2 separate regions of the Homo sapiens genome follow, and region 2 is linked to region 1. The links come from fine-mapping of genetic effects on gene expression. A gene starts in region 1. The other region holds a variant in brackets. All regions are shown on one strand. Distances are from middle to middle.

What was found.
Region 2: its variant is fine-mapped to the expression of NRIP3-DT in prostate (GTEx, PIP above 0.99).

Annotation. Positions count from the first base shown.
Region 1 is chr11:9,000,690-9,009,011 of GRCh38, forward strand. It overlaps NRIP3-DT (NRIP3 divergent transcript), which reads left to right and starts at 3,399. Exons shown (of 3, transcript NR_183663.1): 1 at 3,399-3,854. It overlaps NRIP3 (nuclear receptor interacting protein 3), which reads right to left and starts at 3,312. Exons shown (of 7, transcript NM_020645.3): 1 at 3,073-3,312. The coding sequence starts at 3,246. RefSeq lists an enhancer at 2,489-3,408.
Region 2 is chr11:9,089,804-9,098,125 of GRCh38, forward strand. SCUBE2 (signal peptide, CUB domain and EGF like domain containing 2) reads right to left here and starts at 1,796. Exons shown (of 23, transcript NM_001367977.2): 1 at 1,593-1,796; 2 at 1-26. The coding sequence starts at 1,725. It overlaps MIR5691 (microRNA 5691), which reads right to left and starts at 576; the gene lies at 509-576. It also overlaps the pseudogene KRT8P41. RefSeq lists enhancers at 5,511-6,012, 6,013-6,512 and a silencer at 5,604-5,809. The variant C/T (reference allele first, on the strand shown) is at 3,649.

The DNA.
Region 1 (8,322 bases):
TGAACCTGGTAGCTAAAACAAGATAAATTACAATAGGCAAATTTCCAAGAACGGAGATGTTTTTCTCCAGCTTCACTGAGTTAAAAAAAAAAATCAGGGCTGGGTGTGGTAGCTCATGTTTGTAATCCCAGCACTTTGGGAGGCTAAAGTGGGCAGATCGCTTGAGACCAGGAGTTCAAGACCAGCCTGGGCAATATGGCAAAATCCCATCTCTACAAAAAATACAAAAGTTAGATTGGTGTTGTGGTGTGCACCTGTAATCCTAGCTACTCAGGAGGTTGAGGTGGGAGGATCTCTTGAGCCTGCGAGGTCGAGGCTGCAGTAAGATGTGACTGCAGCTGCATTCCAGCCTGGGCAATAGAGTGAGAACCCGTCTCTTAAAAAAAAAATCAAATATAATATTACTCACTCATATCTCTGGTTTTAGTTCTTAATCTAATACAGAATGAACAATACAAGATAAAAGGATAAAAGCAAAAGGGGCAGACAAAAATATAATTTCCACAGAAGACTTTGTATCAGCCAACTCCAGATACACAGGAATAGGCAAAGGCACTTTCCTGGGGCCAAGAGAACATGACCCCCTTTGATTTCCTATGGTTGCCTTCTGCCAGTCCTAAAAGAGCTGGCAGGCTGGTATCAAGCAGTGAACATTACAGAAACAGCATAGTAAGAGGTAGATAATTCAGAAATCCCAGCGGTATATTCAAATATAGGTTGCTGGTATGAGGAAAAACAACCTACAATCTTCACAAACCCAAAAGTCAATAACAACTAATTTCTCCTCTCTCTTCCTTATCTCCCTCTGATGCTATCCTCTCCCTTTTCTTGGACTCCTTCTATCGAGATTATACTATAAACTACTCCAAGTAAGAACTATTCAATTAATTTTAACATCCTCCAAATTTCCCTTGCAGTGAGAGAAAATTGAGTCAACACTGGTCTATCCCACATGTATTTATAAAGTAAAAGAATAATAATGTACTTCTAAGGTCACTTCTAAGATTGTACTAAGGCTGCAACAACAGTTCCAAGAGAGTTTAAGCATGCTGCCTCACCCCAGCGCTTGCGGCTCTCCTAGCCCTACCTCGGTCTGCCTTGGTTTCTGTAACCTGGCTGTTCTGTGCAATCACTTGTACATTATAGGTGTGAAAACAGTGAGAGAGGGAAATCAACTCCATGACGGTGGGGCACAGAAAGCGTGAACCATGATTCAGAGCCTTACAGTCAACTGTCATGTGTATGTGTCATACTCAAGGCAATATCCTGCTTCTTGAGGCTCCTTCCTCTTTGCAGCCTGCTGCCTGTGCTGTATGCTATCAGCCCTTTGTGACTCAACTGAGACAGACTAGAGTCAGAAAAGCGGATGGAATTCTTACACAGCATGAAGTAGTATAAGAAATCCTAGGCAGAAGGAAGTTCAGGTAGCTCTCAGGGCTAGGAAACTCCTCGACAACGAGGGACAACCAAATCCAGCATTTAAAAACTCTGTATTTTAATTCTTCTCTTAATATAATACTTCCTTCTTTATTGATTGCTGAGCATTCTAGGAACTAGGATAGGATTATTTGGCCTGAAGGAAAGAATACTTCTCGAACCTGATTTGTTAAATGAATCGAGATTGCTTTAAAGTGAAAGAAGGGAAAAGAGAGTTATCTCTTTTGCAGGAGCACATTTCAATCACTTATCACTCTGGGTTAGCATAAATCAGATAAACTATCCTGTGGGTTGTGCAAAAAGCAAAACAAAACAAAAAAACACAACTTGTAAAAAAAACAGAGCAAGATAACTGAAGTAGACAAACTCTGCACAGAAGTAACTAATGGCAGGGAGGAGAAAAATTTTTGTATATTATATTATACTGTGTATAATATAATGTACCTGTGTATCATTAGAGCTGTTAAATTAAAAAAAAAAAAAAAAAAAAAAGGAAATGGATGCAGAAGCTCTGCCCTCCTGGGGCCAGAAATGGCAATTTCAGTGAACTAGGGCCGACAACCACATCCAAAATTAAATATTTCAAAAGCTTAAAATAAAAAATACTAGAAAAATTATGCAGAGCACCTATTTCATTTGTTAAAAGACATTTAATTAGTGTTTCACATATTACCACCCAAATGAATAAAGCGATTGTGAAATTCAAGAAAACAATCAAACTACAAGAAAACTCCAGATAAAACTACAAAGTTAAACATAAACTTGGCCCAGGACCACTACAGTGGCTGAGGGATGACAAATACAGTTCTTTATATTGGTAACCCTTAGCCATCCATCCCATTCTATAGAAAGAGGACAGTACCATCTTTGACCCCAGGCCCCCTGTCCTGAGGTGCTTCTACTTAATGCCAGGAACAACTGTGCTAGAAAAAAAGACTGCACCCACCCCAGCTCCAGATGCACACATTAGCTGGTCGGTGAGATGCAGCAGCCTGGCTTCCTCCCTCTACCCACTCCTTGGGGGCGGGGCTGGAAGAGGAGAATGATGAAGAGATGTTGGGGGTTCAGGAAACCTTCACATTTGGCCCCTTTTCTCTCTCCCCACTCAGGATGGAAGGTCAAAGTTAGGACCAAAACTAGAGAAGTGGGTTTTGCATAGGGGGACAATGGATTCAACAGAAGTCCTCTGGATCTGGCAACTGTCAAAAAACCCTCTTTCCACTTCTTTCCCCCTCACGGAAAGCCATTAGGAATCACCTCTGTCTGGGTCATAGGAACAGCCACACAGCATAGGAGGCACAAGCCCCGTGAACAAAATTCGGTATTAAGAATAAGGAAAAAGAAAGAAGACCCGAGGGCAAGAGGGCAGGGCAGGACCTCTTCTTTCTACTGGAGAAGAGACATCCAGGGAGGAGGCACAGCCGAGGGGAGCGCAAGCTAGAAAAGCTACGACGGAATCCCCACCGAAACCGCAGCAGGGGTACTGGAAGGGGAGGAATCCGCGACGCAGCGACCGCGAGCCAAGGGCAGCGGCGGGCCGGGCCGTGACTCAGTGAAAGCCGCAACGGCCGGGCCTCGGAAAACGGCGGGCGCGAAGCCGCCGGGGCCGGGGCGAGAACGGCGGCGGGGGCTCACCATGTCCTTGGACGAGCCCAGCTTCTTGAGGCCGTCCAGGGGCAGCAGGTCGGCGGAGTCCTTGTGGATGAACTGCACCGCCTGCTTCATCCGGCGCTGCTGTCGCAGTGACGCCGCCTCCCGCATGTCGGTCTCCTTGCGGCCGCCCTCAGTGAGGAGCCCTGAGTAAAACATCGCTGAGGCGCCGGCGGCCCGGTAGCCCACAGCCCCCCGGCAGCCTCAGCCTCGAGCTCCTCCAGCGCCGCAAGGGCCCCGAGCCGCGCCTTTTATAGCCGAGCGTGACGTCGCGGGGAGCAGCCAGTGCGCGCGCGGGGGGCGGGGCCGGCACAGAGTCCACGCCCCGCGCGGCTCCCTCGCGTCCCGCGTCCCGCGTCCCGCGTCCCCTGCTCACCCGGTGGCAAAGCCGGCGAGGAGGCGGCGGCGCTGGTGGGGACTGACCCGGCAGTCCGAGAATCCACCGCGGCCTTTTCACCCAACCGCCCCCTCCTGCGTGGGGGCCCCGCATCCCCTGGACTGGCGTGGGCTCTGGGGCCCGATGCCCTGGCAGCCCCGGCCATCTCTGCCGCTGGCCGCGGGTACCTGCTCACCTGTCCACGCCGTGGCCGACCCGGGGATCACCGACAGCCGGGCCATGCCTCGAGTCCCGCCGCCCGCGCCGCTGCTCGGCTTCTCAGAAACGCACCTCCACGCCGCCAGCCGGGGCTCCAGGGTCCACCGCCCGGGCCCGGAGGACTGGCGACTCCCTCCGAGGTTGGGAGCGCTCCGGATTTCTCCAACTTCAGGTCGGTCCCCACCCACCGGGCCACGTGACTGGGGAGGGGGCAGCCGGTGCAGGCGTGTGGAGGAGGCTTTCGGGACCTCCTCCCCCGGGCACCCTCTGCCTGCAGCCCGGCACCCGGCCCGCGTTTCCGAGCCGGGGGAGCAGGTGCAGTCGGAAGCCCGCGGGTGGGCGTGGGGCGGGGGAGTGGCGAGGGTCCCCCGCCTCCGCGGGAGCGCACGCGGCTGCGAGCCCTACACCTGCTCTCCGACCAAAGAAGCACCTGTTTTTCTCAATAAGTGCTAGGGCTTACCATCTAAAGGATCGTTCACCATCCCTCCAGCGTCCTTAGTAGGAGCGATTGGAACCCGTTTTTCTTCCTGAATAATCCATACTTTTAAGCCATTCTAATCGGGCCTTCAGGCATCCTGGATTCTGGTCTCGACATTGTGATTTGACACAAATCACGTTTTCACTCTGGAAACCACAACTACTCCCTCCACCCCATCACGCAGGAGCAGACCTGGATAAGAAATATGTGCACTCTGCAAAGAACCAATGATAAAAGTAACAATATCGACGCTTACTGAGCCTTTACTATGTGCCAGGTACTAGACTAGACACTTAAAATGCAGTATCTCATTGGATCCTGGCAACAGCTTGTAAGATAGTATTCTCATCACCCCCATTTTACAGGCAAATACCTGATACCTTCTGTCTGGCCTCCTGAATGCTCCTTGGTTCCATTCCAATACGTTGTTCACTGTGCTGCCAGAGTAATCTTCTCAAACGATAAGTGTGATCATCTCACTTCCCTGCTAAGAGCACCTCAAAAGGCTTCCTATTGCTCTTAGGAGAAACCCACATTCTTGCATGGTCTGCCTAGACCCTGCATATTCACTCTGTACTTCAGCCTCATGGGCCTTCTTCCAGTTCCTTCCAGTCACCTGTTGCCAAATGGCCTGCCTTTGACTGTCCTGTTCCCTCTGTGTGCAGTGCCCCCTCCTACCCTCTTCAGGAAACTCCTATGCTTCTTCCAGACCTCAGCTCCATTATCATTTCTTTAGGAAAGCCTTCTCTGACCTTCCAGAGAGAGTGAAGTCTCTCTAATTATATACTATCTATCTCTTGGGCATTTGACACTTTCTGTGGGGGTAGGGGTAGGGGGGTACTGGTTGTTGGATTAATATTTGTCTCCTCCACTGATTGGAACCTCCAGGAAGGTGACTGAACCCATTTTTTGCTTAGCATTGATGCCCTAATATGCAGAGGGTTCTCAAATACTAGTGAAAGGATGGCAAAAAGTTAAGGTCGTACCAAAGAAATCAAGTGGTAAAGCTGGCATTTACTCCCAGAACCTGTGCTGGACTACCTAGACCTGGAGAGACTGGGTTTGGCCTCATGAAGCTGCTTCTTTTACTCTGTTCTGCCTTCAACACTTGCCCCAGTTTCAAAGACTGTTTGTGGGAAAACAAATACAGAAGGCTGCTCACTTGGCTTCAAGGAAGCCCCAGGGCTGGATTCCTCCCTGTGTGCCCATCCCCTACTTTCCCCTACACACGGAGGACAGAGTCTCTAGGAGACAGGTGGGATTGCTGTTCACCTTCCAGTCCCCTGGCACACTTCCAGCAGTGAACAACAGTGGCTGCCCTGGCCCCTTCTGTCCCATCACCTGGATCCCTGCCTGATCACTCCTCCAGGTGCAGATCACCCAGGGAACAGTGAAAGTCAGCTTTGCCTTGTCCGTCTAGGAGAGGTGCCTCTGAGTTTGGCAAAGCATCAGGGCAGGTCCAACAGTGAGGGCCCCTAGGGCTTGGGCTGGGACAGTGACTTTCCTCAGGGAGGAAGCCAGGCAGGTAGACACTCTCGGGGGGAGTTGGAATCCCCACTCTCCAGGCTGCTCAGCTCAGACCTGCAGCCTTTTTTGCTGAGGATGTCCTGACAGAAGAAAGGGGCTCTTTTCAGAGCTAGATCCCCCTGGGAACACCAGGAAGCTGAATCTCTCTAGTTGAACTGGAATTTGCCCATATCAAGTGTTGCTGAAAAATAAATGGTGCCCGACTGGAACTGGGAATCTTTTTGTGAATTCAGAGCCCTTTGGTGTAGTGGGATTTGTGTTCTGCAGTTGGGTCTGTGGCTGCAATACCTGTTGGTCCCCTCACCTGTCTGAGACCTTCCTTGGACAGACTGATACCATCACTGCCCTCAAGGTTCAGTGTGGTGAGGCCAGCTCCTTCCTCCCCCCACACATTATGAGTATTCGCAGACTACAGACTGCCTGCTTAATTTAAGGAGAGTTATCTCTGGGTGGTTTATCCTGTTTGCCCAAATGACTTTGAGTAAATCACTTCCTACCTCTGAGCCTCAGTTTCCATATCTGTAAAATGGATGTAGTGAGACTGCATATACAATTGTGCTTTGTAAACTCTCTAGGGCTGTACCAACAGAAAAGATTATTATTAATTCTCCATATAGCCAATCAACGTCCCCTGCCTCATTGACCCATCTTGGAGGAAGTAACATACAATATGGTTGTTAAAAACACAGGTTTTGGAGTCTAATACACTAGATTTGAATCCCTGCTCTGCTGCTTACTAGCTATGTGACTAGTTAGTTACTGCACCATTGTGAGCTTTCAGTTCTTCATCTAGAAAATTGTGCCAATATCTCTACTTCTCAGGGCTGCTGTGAGAAATAAAACGATAGACAGTGTAATACATTGGTCATGTAGCATAGGCTCAGCAGAAGGTAGCAACCATCATTACCTGGAACAACTTCAGGAAAAACTGTAGGTTGCAGAACCCTCGAATTGGGGCTGGCCTATCCTTTCTCCAGGCTTCCCTACAGAGCTTCAGACATGAAGCCAGACTTGAGTATCTTACCCTATCCCTAGAGCAGAGGCCTGCTGAGGCAGGGGCTGGCCAGCTCTCTTCCTCTCCTCAGTGTCTCCAGATTCTGGACTTTCCATGTGCAATGGCTCTATCCTAAAGTTCTCTGCATCCTCCCTTGGCTGTTATAGAAGACCTGTACTTGAAAATCATACTAGAAAATCCAGTACTGTTTCAGTGTTAGAATGCTATTCACGTTATTCTTCTTATAAGTGACAGATACCCAGTTGAAAATTTCTTATGTGAAAATGCAAATTTTTGGTCCCCTTAATTTAAAAGTGCAGGGCTTCAGGCATGGCTGGATCCAAAGACTCAAATGACATTATCACTGTGTTTCAGCTCTGCTTTCCTCTGAGCTGATGCCCCTGTAGGCAGACCCTTCCTGTCTGATGGCTATTTGTGACTCTAGGCTTACAACCTATTCTCCTAGCAACCCTCTTTTGGGTCTTCAGCTAACAGAGAGGCCTTTAAGAATGAGAAACAGGATGAGTGCTGAGGCTTGGAGGCCTAAAAAGTAGAGGAGAAGAGCAGAGGATAAAGGGGAGACTGCCAAGAAATTTTCCTCCCCATTCCCTCCCTACCCATGCATATTGCCCTTGGCCATACCCTGAAGTCAGAATGGCCACTCCTAGGACCCTCATCATGCACCACCCCATCCTTATAGCTGTAGGATCCCTTTCCTCCTCAGATGTCCTCACCACTACCCCAACCCCCTTTGGCAGGAAGATTCTTCGAACAGCTATCCAGATGTGTGCCAGGATCTCTGGCTACATGGTACCCCTGACTTGGCACCCAGCTCTAAAAACTGTGTCTGCTTTGGCAGTTAAAGCAAAGATAAGAGATATTTCTGTCCTCTTCCTTCAGAGTGATTGCCAACATCACCATGACCTCAAGAAACAGGGCTGATGGCAGCCCTGCTGGTGTTTTCCAAAGTTGCCTGGGTCTTTTGGATCCATTACAGTCACCAGTGATTTGGTTTCATTTCCCGGGATGAGAACAGGCTTTGACCTCAACTCAGACAGCAAAAGAGGAGAAATAATGGAAAGAAAACAAACACCAGTATCTGAAGGACGTGTGTCTGGTGGAAGTGGGGAAGTGAGGAGTCTAGGCTTAGCTTTGAATCTGGTTCCACCCCTTGCTTGCTATGGGACCTTGGCCAAGTTACTGAAGCTCTCTGAGCCTCAGTTTATCCATCTTGCAGGGTTCTGTCTCATTTGAGTGAAATAATATATAAAGGCACAAAGTGGGCTCTCAATAAATATGTCCTGTTCCTCTTTCCTTCCCCTCTCCAACATAGGTAGAGAACCCAGAAAAAGAGTGGCCCTTCTGAGCCTAGTGGGAAACTCTGCAGTATAGAAACAAGAACTCTGAAGATGGCAAGTCTCTCAGAATACAGCAAAGCATAGGCCTAACCCACCTGCTCCTTATCTCTTTATGTCAGCCCCAGCCAAAGGGGACAATGCCTGCAGCGTGGCTCACACTGATGGGTAACTTCTGTCTACCTCAGGAGCACTGAGGGCTCTACCTCCTTCCCCCCAGTTAACTAAGCATGTTGCTCAGATGTGATGGTGTGCATGCTGGGCAAGCCACAGGGGCTGGGGGCCA
Region 2 (8,322 bases), 89 kb after region 1:
TAGCCCTTGGGCACACTCATCTACATCTGCAAAAGAGCACAGCTGACACCTGGTACAGGCTCCCAGGCCATGTGTGATCTGGCCTCGGCCCTGTCTGGCATCATCCTCACCAGCCCACCCCGCTTCACTCCTCACAAGCTACAGCTGCTTGGGATCCCTGGGATAAACCAAACTGTTTCTGGGTCCCTGTTTCCAGGAACAGCCCGGACACTCTACGTGAAATTACCCCCACCATCACCTACTGGCCTTCAGGACTTAGCTCAAATCCACCTCCTCCAGGAAGCCTGCCATGACCCCCATTGTAGCTGCCCTCACCAAGTGCTCGCATATGTATGGCTTTGCATGCACACATCAGGCAGGGTTGTCACTGTTTTCCTTCCTCTCTCTCCACTAGACAATGTCTTGACAACAGACTGCGTCTGTGTCCCTTATGCCAAGCCAGCGCAGTACCTGGCATGTGAGTAGGCAATAGTACCTACATGCCCGCTAAAGGAGGAAAGGACCAAACGGACAGACAAGCTCTGAACACCAAGCAGCTGTCTGTCAGCTTTCTCGGAGCTCAGAGCAAGCTTGTCCAACACAGCCCGTGGGCTACGTGCAGCCCAGGACAGTTTTGAATGCGGCCCAATGCAAATTCATAAACTTTCTTAAAACATTATGAGATTTTTTTTTTATTTATTTATTTATTTTTTTTTTTTGCTCATCAGCTGTCGTTTGTGTTGGTATATTTTATGTGTGGCCCAATTCTTCTTCTTCCACTGTGGCCCAGGTAAGCCAAAAGATTGCACCCCGCTGGTTTAGAGTATTTATGGGAAGTCTGCCCCGGGATCGGAGCAGATGTCATCCAGGGCTCTCAGATGCTGCGAAGCGGGGATGGTGTCCCCATGGCCGGCCCCCTGCACTCCCACCCCTGCCCATCCTCTCAACCTGGAAACCCGCCTTGGCAGAAGTATTTCCTGGGTTGACACTACTCCAGGATATTAATTAAAAACAAAAGCATTTTGAAAGTATTGCAAGTCCAGTAAGCACAGCACGTCCAGAGTCCTCTCTGGAAACCAAAGTTCTCTGCTGAAAACCTAGGCTTGTTGCTGCTTCAGGGTAATTCCCAGATCGGAACAGGCGCTGTTCCGCTGACAGAAAAGTCTCTGGAGCCCACCCCGAAGCCATCAGCAGAACTTGCCGGCCCCCAAAGAAAGAAACGGCAAAGCTGCCACCGCCTCGCGGATGTGCCCGGCCCGGCCCTCAGTTTCCCCGCCTACGCTGAGGCGCGGGACCCCAAGGCCAGGGTCCGCACCCTCCTGCCTGCTCGCCGGCGACGGTCTGACTAGCAGGCGCTCTGGAGGCATCCGGACCGGGGCGGGAACCGTCAGCAGCTCCGGGTCCGAGGCCGGGCCGAAGGACTCAGGGCCCCAGCGGTCGTGGCGCCTTGGCCCGGCCGGCGGGTGAGGTCCCGGGGGGAGCAGAGGCCCCCGCGGAGCTGCAGCCGCCAGCCCCGAGCCCCGCGCGCCCGGCTCTGGACTCCGCCGGGGACCTAAACACTCTTCCTGGCCCTGCCTGCTGTGCCAGGTGCGCCCCCGCGGCCGGACACTCACCCTCCTGCGGCCCCGCGGCACGGCCCCGACCCGGCGGGACGGCCCCCGCCAGCAGCAGCAGTGGCGGCAGCAGCAGCAGCAGCAGCAGCACCGCCCAGGCCGCCCCGGGACGGTTGCGGCCCGCGACCCCCATGGATGGCTCAGCGGTTGCGGGCAGAGGCGGCGGAGTGCGGGCGGTGGCGGCGGCGGCGCGGGGAGGTGTGCGCGGACGCCCTGCCCGCTGCCGCTGCCACCCCCGGCCCGGCCCCGCCCGCCCCCCGAGCCCCGGCCTCATTTTCACACGGTCCCTCCCGGGCCGGGGCGGGAAGCGCAGGCGGGAGCAGTGCCGCCCCGCCCGGCCTCCTCCCGTCCCCTCCCCGGCCTCGGGTGGAGGGGGCGCGGCCGCGGTGGCCCGAGCGCGGCTGTCAGCCTGGCGGGGCGGCAGCACCGTGCCTCGCGCCCCGCGCAGCCCTGGCACCCAGCCCGCTGCCCCCCGCATCCCCGCTCCGCTCCAACGCTCGGAGCCCTCGGTGCCGCGCCTGTTCCAGTGTGTTACAACTCGACCCAGGCCCTCATGTGAGGACAAACAGCCCTTCTAGATTGAAATATTCGGGGTCAGGGCGCCCAGAAAGTGTTCCGTATAGTCCCCAAACCCCAAAGCCATCTTGGGGCTTTCCACGTGGGAGGTGGGAGGTGGGAGTGGAAGGAATTGGGGGTGACTTCCAATTCGGGAAAACAGCTGTTTGAATGGAGAAGGTGACCCTGGCTTCTCTGCCCACCCCAGCACACCCTCTGCACCCTTCTCCACACTGCCCACCCCAGGCCCTCTGGGATCCTCCATCCCACAGCCCTGAGGGCACTGGTCCACTTGTCCCACTGTGGGGCACACTGGGCCTAGAATCCCTGCAAGCTACTTATGTATATCTCAGGGCAGCCTAAGGGGAAGGGGGCTAGAGGTCAAAGGTGAGCCACCAGAGACAACAGACAGCAGCCCCGACTTTGCCGGAGTACAGGTGGCATTTACGATCACCTGAACTCATAAACATCAGGTCTGGCTAGCTTCAAACACAGGCAGGGCCTAGCACCTAGCCTTCCATGAAAGACAGTCCTTGCAAGGGAACAGGTACACAGGGTCTTCCCATATCACACTTGACACGGATGGCTGGAGCCCAATACACCCACCATCACTCCAGGAACAAATATAGTAACAATTTCCGGACGCAACCAAACATCACACTTAGGGATAGTAATGTTCTTCACTGAGCTTCTCCGTATTTATTCAATTTTCTCCTGCGATTATATACATACACATATGTATATATGCAGGCACACGCACGCGCGCACACACACACACACCATTCCTTTGGAGATCAGAAAAAAAATAGATGTCACCAAAAAATCCCCACCTAGCTCATGCACAAAAACTCTTATGTCTTCTTGGGGCCTATCCACAGCCCAGAGCTCCCAGCCTCTGCACCCTCAGTACCCACTGTCTGCCACCCCAGCCCCCGAACATGCCCACGGGGGCCTGCCTCTTTGGGCTGTGGCTAGTGCAGCTGCTTGATGGAGCTATCTGAGAAAATAACTTTTCTGTAGTTGTTTTTCTTTTGACCCTTTCAGTGAAGGCAGGCAGGTTGCGTCCCTCTTTCTGTCTGCGCCTCCCTCCCACTCCCTTTTGTTTGGTGCTGAGAGAGACACTCAGCTATTTCTGGTCATAAGGGTGGTTTTTACACATTTGTAAATCTTCAGTTAGTGAAACGTTCTCTCCACCTTTGTCTTTGTGTCCTTAATGGTAGCCATAAATTACTGCCTTCTTTTCTCTCCACTGCATCAGGCTTCATTGCTTTTGAAATGATCAAAGTTATTTCTTTTAAAATCCAACTAGAAACTGCCCATTGTGTGGCACAGACCTCTTTAGCTCCAGTTAAAGCATATAAATACATAAAGCTGCCCATTAAACTCTAGGGGGAGCCTCCTGCAGCGCCCTTGTGCCTGGCAAAGAAATCACACATGTGCTATTCTTCCCCTTTACCTTTCCCTAACTTGATCTTTCAGTAAGGACATAAATTAATAATGA[C/T]AAGAATCAGCGCCTTTTTGCCTAAGACTGTCAGCTTTTGTCATGTTTCCCAGAAAAGTCCACCACTGGCACAGATCTCAAAAAATGTTCTGTATCCTATTTTGTTTGCGCTGACATCCTTACAAACGTGCTTTCAGCTGTTGGCTCCCAGACTCCTGGGCAACCTTTTTGACACTTGAGATTAAAGTCAATATGGCTTACAACCGGGAATTTCCACAGGGGGAAGCTCCAGGGGAAAACTGTGTCCAAATGTCAGTGTTTTTGGTGTCAGGAGGAACTTGGTTGGCTCTACTCTGGCTGCAGGCTGCCCTCTATTCTGCAGCTGAGGTCCCCACAAACTTCTCAGAAAGGCCTCAGACACCGTCCCTGGACTGAGGCTAAAGCTCCCTCTTCCTCTCCCTGTCTCCTCTCCACAGGCTGAGAGGCCATGAACCAGGCCTCAGGGGTGCGAAGAGGCAGTCCAGCCAGCCCAGTCACACTGGTGTGGGCCTTTGAGGAGGCTGAAGAAAGCCTGGTAGTGGCCGGCCATGCGTGCCCCTGAACTACACATAAGCAGGTGCCACTCTGCACTCATGGGACACCATTCAGTGCCCACCTTTCTTGACTCCCCCCCCGCCCCCAGCAGCCTCTGACATGTGGACTACTTCTCCCTGGTGGAAACTCTCCTTACCCTTGGTTGTCATCGTGGCAAACTCCTGGTTTTCCTCCTACCTCTCAGGAAATGCCTTCTCCACCATCTTCTAGGAGTCCTCTTTCTATACCCTCTCTCTGGATGGTTCACTCATTCCCTTGATTCCATAATGTCAATCTCCAGCCTGGATTCATCCCCTTGGTTCAATCCCATGTATCCAGTTGCCTACTAGATACCACCTTGATCTTCCCTAGATCCCACCTTGATCTTCCCTAGATCCCTCTGATTGAACATGTTCAAAACGAAGCTCATGACCTAGAAGAAGCTTCTCTGCTTTCTCGAATCTCTGCCTGGTTCAGCCCACCCACCCCTCCACTACTGCCTCCACCATGTCCATCAGGGTGACCCAGAAGTCCTACAGGGTGTCCACCTCTGGCCCCTAGGCCTTAAGCAGCCGCTCCTACACAAGCGGGCCTGGTGCCCATATCAGCTCCTGGAGCTTCTCTCAAGTGGGCGGCAGCAGCAGCTTCCGGGGTGGCCTGGGCACCCGCATGGCTCTGGGTGGAGGCTATGGTGGGGCCAGTGGTATGGGGGGCATCACAGCCATCATGGTCAGCCAGAACCTGCTGAGCCCCCTTAAGCTGGAGGTGAACCCCAACATCCAGGCTGTGTGCGCCCAGGAGAAGGAGCAGATCAAGACCCTCTACAACAAGTTTGCCTCCTTCATCGAGAAGGTGCGGTCCCTGGAGCAGCAGAACAAGATGCTGGAGACCAAGTGGAGCCTCCTGCAGCAGCAGAAGACAGCTCAGAGCGACATGGACAGCATATTCGAGAGCCACATCAACAAACTTCGGCGGTAGCTGGACACTCTGGGCCAGGAGAAGCTGAAGCTTGGCAACATGCAGAGGCTGGTGGAGGACTCCAAGAACAAGTATGAGGATGAGATCAATAAGCGTACAGAGATGGAGAATGAATTTGTCCTCATCAAGAAGGTAACGTGGCTGAAGCTAACATGAACAAGGTAGAGCTGGAGTCTCTTCTGGAAGGGCTGACTGACGAGATCAACTTCCTCAGGCAGCTATATGAAGAGGAAATCTGGGAGCTGCAGTCCCAGATCTCGGACACATCTGTGGTGCTGTCCATGGACAGCAGCCGCTCCCTGGACATGGACAGCATCATCCCTGAGGTCAAGGCGCAGTACAAGGAGATCGCCAATGGCAGCTGGGCTGAGGCTGAGGGCATGCATCAGATCAAGTATGAGGAGCTGCAGACACTGCCTGGGAAGCATAGGAATGACCTGCGTTATGCAAAGATGGAGATCTCTGAGATTAATAGGAACATCAGCCGGCTCCAGGCTCAGACTGAGGGCCTCAAAGGCCAGAGGGTTTCCCTGGAGGCTGCCATCGCAGATGCTGAGCAGTATGGGGAGCTGGCTGTTAAGGATGCCAACACGAAGCTGTCGAGCTGGAGGCCGCCCTGCAGCGGGCCGAGCAAGACATGGTGCAGCAGCTGTGCCATGGAGCACCAGGAGCTGATGAACGTCAAGCTGGCCCTGGACATCAAGATCGCCACCTACAGGAAGCTGCTGGAGGGCGAGGAGAGCTAGCTGGGGTCTGGGATACAGAACATGAGTGTCCATCTGAAGACCACCAGTGGCTACTCAGGTGGGCTGAGCTCGACCCACGGGCACCTCACAAGCCCTCTACAACAGGCCTTAGCTACAGCCTGGGCTCCAGCTTTGGCACTGGTGGAGGCTCCAGCTCCTTCAGCCGCGCCAGCTTCTCCAGGTCCATGGTTGTGAAGAAGGTGGAAACGCGAGATGGCAAGCTAGTGTCCAAGTCCTCTGATGTCCTGCCCAAGTGAATGGCCATGGCAGCCCCTACCAGCCTGCCCCTCCTGCGGCTGCCCCAGGGCCCGTGGAGGAAGCCGCTGTGCAGTGGAGCACAGGAACAGGAGACTCACCTGAGGCTCAGCCCTAGCCCTCAGCCCACCTGCTGGGGGAGTTTACTGCCTGGGGCACCCCCATTGGCCATGCTTCCAGCTACAAAACAATTCAATTGTTGCTTTTTTTTTTTTTTTTTTCAAAATAAAATCTCAGCTAGCTCTGCCAACTGTCCAAAACAAACAAACAAATGGAGCTCATCTTCCTCAAACCTGCTCCTTCTCAAGTGCTCTCTCCTTTAGACAAGGGCACCACCATTCTGTTAACACCAAGTCAGAGGTTTGGCGGTCATCTGGGACTCCATTATCTCCCTCCCCACCACATCCGAACAATCAAGAAAATTCTACCTTCTTATTGTCTCTTAAAACCATTCTCTTCCTCTGTGCCCATTGCCTGAGCTCAGGGGTTCGCCATCCCTCATCACCCCTGGGGGCTGTGTATCTATCCCTTTCCTCCTTCCTAACAGATACTCACTCCTCCTGCAGACAGCCCGTGTCCCTAGGAAGGAAGCTGCCCCATCTCTAACTTCAGGCTCTGGAGTTGACTTAAGACAATTGATATCATTCATTCCATTCCCCCTGCAACAGTCATTGGTTCAGGGATGAGCACGTGACGGATTTCCAATCGGAGCAAATCTCAGGCCCTTTGCTTGAAAGGCTGGAATGGAAAGGCTCTCTTTTTCTCTTTGGGATGTGGCTGTGGTAAATGAGAAACTGTGGCAGCCATCTTAATACCTCCTTCCCTTGCCCAAAAGAGGGTAAGTCCAGAGAAACCCTGAGAAGCCAACCAGGAGACACTCTGGTTGCACCTAGTCTGCGATTTCTTACAGGTCTCTCTGTCTAGAATCTCATCCCAATTCAGTACATTCAACACAGTGGCTGCCAGAGTTAAAAGTAAGTTTCATCATATCACTCCCAGTCTTCCTCAGGCTAACATCCAAGCTCCCTTGGTACAATCACTCTGGAGAACTGCCGGGCAGTATACACTAATATGGATCATGCATGCCCACTTCTCAGAATATACCCAAGAGAAATGAGTGTACATGTTCACCAAATTCATATACGAGAACATTCATAACGGCTGTATTTACACTAGCCCCAAACTGGAAATCACCCACATGTCCATCAACTAGATAATGAACATATTGTGGGATATTTGTTCAATGGAATACTACACCAAGCAACAAAACGAACAAACTCTGATACAGGCAGCCACACAGAGGCACCTTATGAACATTAGGCCTAGTTAAAGAAGCCAGGTTAAAAAGGGTGCAAGTAGTATCATTCTGAGAGACAGGACTAGCTGGATTTCCTAGGCCGACTAAGAATTCCTAAGCCTACCTGGGGAAGGTGACCACACCCACGTTTAAACACAGGGCTGGTAACTCAGCTCGCACCCAACCAATCAGGAAGTAAAGAGTGCTCACTAAAATACAAATTAGGCCAAAAGCAGGAGGTAAATAAATAGTCAAATCATATATCGCCTGAGAGCACAGGGGGAGGGACAATGATCGGGATATAAACCCAGGCATCCCGGCAGGGAGCGGCAACCCCCTTTGGGTCCCTTCCCATTATATGGGAGCTCTGTTTTCACTCCATTAAATCTTGCAACTGCACACTCTTCTGGTCCGTGTTTGTTATGGCTCGAGCTGAGCTTTCGCTCGCAGTCCACCACTGCTGTTTGCCACCGTCGCAGACCCGCCGCTGACTTCCACCCCTCCAGATCCGGCAGGGTGTTCACTGCACTCCTGATCCAGCGAGGCGCCCACTGCCACTCCCTATCAGGCTAAAGGCACGCCATTGTTCCTGCATGACTAAGGGCCCAGGATTTGTCCTAATCGAGCTGAACACTAGTTGCTGGTTCCACGGTTCTCTTCCATGACCCACGGCTTCTAACAGAGCTATAACACTCACCTCATGGCCCAAGGTTCCATTCCTTGGAATCCGTGAGGCCAAGAACCCCAGGTCAGAGAACAAAAGGCTTGCTACCATTTTGGGAGCGGCCCGCCCCATCTTGGGAGCTCTAAGAACAAAGACCCGCCCGTAACAATTCTATTCACTTCTATGATGTTCTGCTGGGTGTGGTGGCTCACACCTGTAAT